2 linked regions of the Homo sapiens genome follow. The protein of the gene in region 1 purifies or fractionates together with the protein of each later gene. This does not show direct contact. Each region holds a gene or a part of one and is shown in the gene's direction. Other genes may lie near its edges.

Region 1 (3,500 bases):
CGGTCAATGTTGTCTGTGTTTACAGAATACAAGTTGCTCTAGCTTTTATGTGAAAGTTTCCCTCTAAAGAGAAAGGATTGTTCGATCTTTTATATTAGAAAGAGAAGGAACTGACAGTTACCTATGGACCTTATTAAAGTTTCTATTTTATTTATTGTTTGCAAACATCATCTTCATATGTTCAAGGAAAAAAATAGGAGTGTGACACAGTTGAAATGCAGAGGAAATAACACATTAATCACTGTATAGTAGGACACATGCCATTAAAAAAAAAAACTAACTCTTGGCTTTACTGCCAAAAATCCTCCTAGCCCAGAGTCTCACAAATCGTTATTTATGTATAAATATATAAAAAGTGTCATTTAAATTTCACAACCTAAATAGTTCCTTTATTCCAACATTTATTTAGTCCTTACCATGGGCCAGAGACTTCGGATTTGTACAAATGCTGTCTAAGAGAGCAAGTACTTTTGCAAAGTTGCATTTGGGGGCTTCCCATTTGTTCCACCTGTGATGACTGTCTTGACTTTTTCTATGGCAACTACCAAAAATGTAGTCACTAAATTCTTACTCTTCTAGATTGGATAATATAATCTAGCCAGACTTGAAGGGATTTTACTTAAGATCTAAGACCCTGATCTTCTGATTCCTTTGCTTCTACACAGTATCCTAACAATGACTTATGGTTAGTGCATTTTGTTCCATGTATCACTGCTTCAGAGTTAATTTTTTTAAACTCTATTCTTCTTTTCTAGGTTTTTTTTTTACTTGAATGTAAATACCAATCAAGATACATTGAAATAAGGTAAGAAATTGAAAAAAAAAAAAAAAAACCTTGGTTTGCACTTACATATTTAAGTTATTCCACCATGATCATTGATTACATGAAAAAGAGGATCTTTAAATCAAAAGTAAAGGCCAAAGTAATTATATTTTAAGAATACTCAGGACATAATGAAGTGTTGATAGACTGGGTCCCAAAAAGCAGTGATAATGATTCAAATCCAGAAGACTTGGATCATACAATGGGCAATTTTGAATAAATCTTAAGTAATTTGTACCACTAATTCCCCATCTCTAAAATGGGGTATTTTCTGGTTCCCTGTCTGCTAGGATATAACAGCTATTATAATGTACTTTTTAGTACTACAGGGTCACCTCACCTTTTGTATGCTATTTTACTTCCTAAATCTGGAACTGTTTCAGTGAAGTCTATTTCTGTGGTCCACCCCCCTTCTGTAGCAATTATGCAGCATTAGTTTATGATTTATATATTAGTATTGTTTTTAATTGTCCCATGTGTTATTTGCACTAGCAGCTTGAGGATAGAAAACATATTTGTATACCTGAAGTCTTGAACATGGGTAGGAAAAAACTAATTATTGGTTGGTAAGTAAAACTTTGGATCTCATAAACATGGTAGAATTGTAAATTAGAGGATCAGGGTCTTAGATCTTAAGTAAAATCTTTCAAGGTTGACTAGATTATACTATCCAATCTAGAAGAGTAAGAATTTAGTGACTACATAAGTCAAGACAGTCATCATAGGTAAAATAAACAAGAAGCCTTCAAATGTAAGTTTGCAAAATTACTCATTCTCTGAGGTGGCATTTGTAAAAATTCCAAATGTGGTGAACACTCACTTTAGTAATGAAAATTATTATTGAGGAAGAAGGTCTGAGTTCAAACTTTGATGTTTATTATTTTTATGGTTGCAAAGGATAATGTATTTAAGACAACTCTGAGTTCTTTTGAATAAATACTGGTGTTCACAAGTAATATTTTGAGGATCACTTATTAACTTTGAGAACAAGCAAAGCTCTATCTCATTTTTCCTCTCTCAGTATGTGGTACTACCAGCCACTCATTTTGCTCACATCTGAAACTTAGGAGTTATCTAGAAAGCCTCCCTAGTTTTGAACAGCATATTTATTCACTGAGTCCTGTTGTTTCTACTTTCTTAATCTTAAATTCATCTACTTCTGTCCATTTGCCTCACTAAAAATCTCTTCTAGGCCATTTTCATCATCTATTGCCTCCATTACTCCAGCAGCCCCCTAATTGGTCACAGTGCCTCCAATCTTGCCCTCTTCCCATCCACAGAATACTCAGAGCAATATTTTTGCCACACAATTCTATCGGGCATGTAAATTTTTTCAGTGGCCCTGCAAAATCTAAGCTTTTTAAGGAATGTCTTTGCTCTACAAATGTGACCTGTGCTTACCTTTTTAAACTATGTTCTTGTCACTCTCAAGCCGTATTAAAGAATTGAGCTGCCTGAATGCATATGTTGTCATCTCTAACCCTTTATACAAACTGGATCTTCTGACTTAGACACATTTAAAGTGGTTCTTTATCCTCATTTTAACTGGCTCCCACTTGTTCTGCAAGATCTAGCTTCAATATCTCCTCTATAAGAACTTGCCTATAGTCACTAGCCCAAGGCTTGGCAAACACCATGGCCCATGAACTAAGAGTGCTTTTTAGATTTGTAAAGGATTGTAAAAACATGTATGCAATAGAGGCCATTTGTTGTTGACACAGCCTAAAACATTTACTCATTAATCCTTCACAGAAAACATTTACCAACCTCTGCACTAGATTTATATGCTTTGTAAGATAAGGTACTGTGCTTTATTCCAGGTAGGTAACTTTGTGCCTGGCATTAAACCAATTTATCCAATCTTTAATTAAATGAATTTAATATTCTTAAATTCTGTCTTAGAAAATAAGACACTCAGATGCAGCACTTTATGAAAATTCAGATGAGTAGTGAATATCTTATCTGCTTTGGAGAGAAAAACACAACAAATCAGATACTTGCAGGATTAGGCTTTAATGAATTTGAATACAAGGCACAGGTTTCCAGGTGTATGTAAATACATCTCCATTTTACGTTCTTTAATCGCTTAATCCTTTTGGACCGGGATAAGAGAATATTTGAAATTTCTTATTAAAGCAATAACTTCCTTAATAGGGCTTTAGTCTTTTTGCTTTTTTTTTTCTTTTAAGAGCTGATCATCTGAATTCCTAGTACTTGCAAGTAAATTTTTTTTTTTTTCCTTTTCTGTCCACCTACCATTAGGTGGTTCCTAGATCCTGGCAAATTGTCTATGGTTAAATGATGCTTTTAATTTCTGTGTCAACACAGACCCTCTTCGTTGGTGTCTCCAAATTAGTATTCTCTTCCTCTAGTGTGTCATTACAGTCCCTTTTGGCTTTTGTTTCTTCCTCATGGAATAAATGTGGGTGCTCAATTCGTCCCCTACGTACAAAATGCTGGATCCGGGATTCCAGTCCTTGGCATTTAGGACGGTCCATGAGGGGCTTATATGTGCGCATCTTCACTCCTTCTACAAAGGCACTGGTCTGCTTTATGACAGAGGGCTTAACATTTCCCCATTCTGTCATTCCATCCATCTTTGGTCCTATTCCACAGGGTACTGGAACAGTGTCCAGTCCTTGTAGCATACTATACAACATGTGAGTTTTGACAGCAT
Region 2 (3,006 bases), on another chromosome or scaffold:
CTTGGTTCACTGCACTATCCCCAAAACGTGTTTGGCACAAATAAATGTTTGTTGAATGAATTTTTAAAAATATGTTCAATACAACAACAAAGGTTTAGGAGCAACCTAAAGACCAATAATAAAGGATGACTAAATGATGATACCCCAAATGATGGAATATTATAAAACAATTTAGAGGAACATTTAATGATATTAAAAAATCTCTATATAAATGAGAAAAGTAGTATACAGAATTGCATATGTAGTATCAAGTTTTTCAAAAAATACATATTTTAAGTACATATATGCATTTTTTAAACTTGAAAATACAGAAAAATATTACTCAAATTGGGATCACATTACAGATGATTTTTATTGTCTTTACACAGCTCCAAAATATCTAGTTTTCATGTATTTTGTCACAGCTCCAAAATATCTAGTTTTCATGTATTTGTAATTAGAAAAACAAGTATTGTTTTTAAAGTTGCCTTTTATAAATGTGCAGACTCTGACTAGCCAAGTGGAACACTGGTTTTTTTTGGTTTGTTTTCTTCCTGAAAATATTACTAAAACCTTGTCTTACCATTGAATCATTTTGTTTTTAAATAGTGACATTAAGAAAACCAACACAGTTGCTACAGTGGCATTTGTTCTTGACTTCTCAGGTTAAGGCAACAAGAGCAAAAACAATACCAGGATTCCACAGAGATTGCAAGTGGAAAAAAGGATGGCCCCCATGGCAGTGTATTGGAAGAAGGTTTGGATGATTATTTGACTCGCCTGATAGAAGAAAGGGATACTTTGATGAGAACGGGTGTGTATAATCACGAGGATCGAATAATAAGTGAACTCGACCGACAGATCAGAGAGATTTTGGCAAAAAGCAATGCCAGTAATTAATAACATTTGGAAAAGCTTTATAGAGACTCTAAGTCTAAATTTTAATTTCTTTGTAAAAACCTCAAAAGTGAGGAAAATGGATGTTTTAAAATGGTATTTTCAATTTTTTATAAGCAAAATTTTGTATGTTATTGTATAGTATTTATTTGATCTTATTTACTTTATGCTACCTCTCCCACACTGGTTTTATTTGTAATTTGCATTTATATACTCATTTTAAATGACTTTTCAGTGTTTTTCATAGTTTATAATCTGATGGCTAACTAACTTTCAAAACAGCTTTTAACTAAGTTTGTTGTAGGAGAAATGACTGCGGTAATTTCCAGTTCTATAATGTTTCATGTTGAGCCAAAAGAGTATATCTTGCACTTTAAAAACGCTGCGTCCTATTCCATTTGAATGTAAATTCTTAAAAGTTGAGACCAATTGTAACCAGTTTAACTCATTTTAGATGACCTTTTTTTCTTATAATATTTGCAAGTGACAAGTTTGAAAACAAAGCAAGATCAGTGCAGAGAAGCCACATGACATGTTGGGTGACAGATTGGTCATTTATTTAAATAAAGTTAATACAGATTAAATTTGTTTCAAGAGCTATTGAATTTTCAAATTTTCAGTGTATTTATAACTTTTAAGAACATGAAGTATTAGCTTAATATAGTTTTCTCTGTTGGTTTCTTCCTCAAGTTTGCATTGTTTTCTTTTGTTAAAATTAGAGATTTCTTTTTATTTTCCAGTTATAGTAATACTAGCTGTCAGCTTAAACCCTCTGTAATAGAACATGGAAACAGACACATAAAGACATTAGCTGAAAAAATAGAGTGAAAATCAACTATTTTTTACTCCCGCTAATTTCAATCAATCGTTTTCAAAAGCGCACGAGATTCACTCATTGGATTTATGCAGTGCCCTGTCTGTATAAAAACTCTTAAGAGTTCCTTTATATCATATTCTTCAGAGCCAACATTTGTCCTCAAAGCAACGTTTCCCACCTCCTTTTACTGAGTACTGAAAAAGTTTTAGCAAAGTCACAGATTAGGTTGAATTTCAAAATATATGTACTTTAAAAAGTTCTGATTTCCAAATATAATAAAGTTAAAATTAAGTATATACTTTAGGAAGTTACCAATAACTTCCATCAAAGCAGAGTAGGATATATGGTAACATTAATTTTCGGTCATTTCAAATGAGGTATATTTCTTATTAGGGAAATTAAAGTCCCTATATTTATTATATATTTTTTCCTTATTAACAGAGTATTAATCTAGTAAAAAATAACCCAGCAGTAAATAATAAAGAAATTACTGAATGAGAGGATAATGAATCTGAATCATAGCAGGAATTTGCAATATTAATTATGGTTAGCTATTTTTCTCTCATTGATTTTTGTGCCACTTGAATGGAACAGAAGCAAGCCTTATGTTTTGGAAGGTCTGCGGTAAAATGCTGTGACTGTTTACTTTCAATTGCATTGTGTGTTGCCTGTGACTGCTTTCAAACGCTAGAGGGGGCCTCTGATTTAAAGAAATAAAAAGGACTTTTCTAAAATGGATGTGTAGTTTATTTTGCCTTTTGTAAAGCTCTTTTGGCTATTGTAACTTAACAAATAAAATCATAATTGTGTGCATCTCTGAGTTCTTGAGCAGCCTGTTACTTCTGTTTCTAAACAGAGTGGGCATAGTGTTCGGGTTTTCCTATTTCAAATGACTGTCTTTTTTTCTCAAGTGTTTACATACTATTTTTTGTCTTACAACTAGGGGAGTCTGAAATATTAACACTGTTTTGTAGTCCTTTTAGCAATACCCATTCCATTTGTAAGTGGCATCGAATGTTTTTACACTGATTTTGCCTAGGAGTTAATGAGTATGACCACAGTAGATAAATCAGTGAGTGGGTGCAGGCATGGGTGGGTGAATAAGTTTCCTAGTAACAGGAAAATATCAAATATTTTAGGGTAAAATCAGATTTACCTTTAAAATTTCTGTGGTTTTTCATGGAGAAAGTCTAGTTTCCATGTTTAATGCGGGCATGTACTGCATAGGAGGGGTGTGTAATCTACCAGGTATATCTAATACCATGTCTGTATAAACATAGGAGTTCCCTTGCAGATAAATCCTAGTAATTTCT

What was found. Proteins that work in one complex are often made in the same cells at the same time.
Region 2: the proteins of HYLS1 (region 1) and CEP120 purify together in Homo sapiens (affinity purification with mass spectrometry; one large-scale study listed by BioGRID and IntAct). This does not show direct contact.

What each region holds. Positions count from the first base shown.
Region 1 is NC_000011.10:125,890,668-125,894,167, forward strand, and holds part of HYLS1 (centriolar and ciliogenesis-associated protein HYLS1), read left to right. Parts: intron 1-755; 5' UTR 756-805; intron 806-2,817; exon of another isoform or gene 2,818-3,117; coding exon of another isoform or gene 3,118-3,500. Other genes in the region: PUS3 (tRNA pseudouridine(38/39) synthase), read right to left, coding at 3,118-3,500. UniProt on the Homo sapiens protein: Plays a role in ciliogenesis.
Region 2 is NC_000005.10:123,344,392-123,347,397, reverse strand, and holds the end of CEP120 (centrosomal protein of 120 kDa), read left to right. Parts: intron 1-588; coding exon of another isoform or gene 589-644; coding exon 645-879; 3' UTR 880-2,506; downstream 2,507-3,006. UniProt on the Homo sapiens protein: Plays a role in the microtubule-dependent coupling of the nucleus and the centrosome.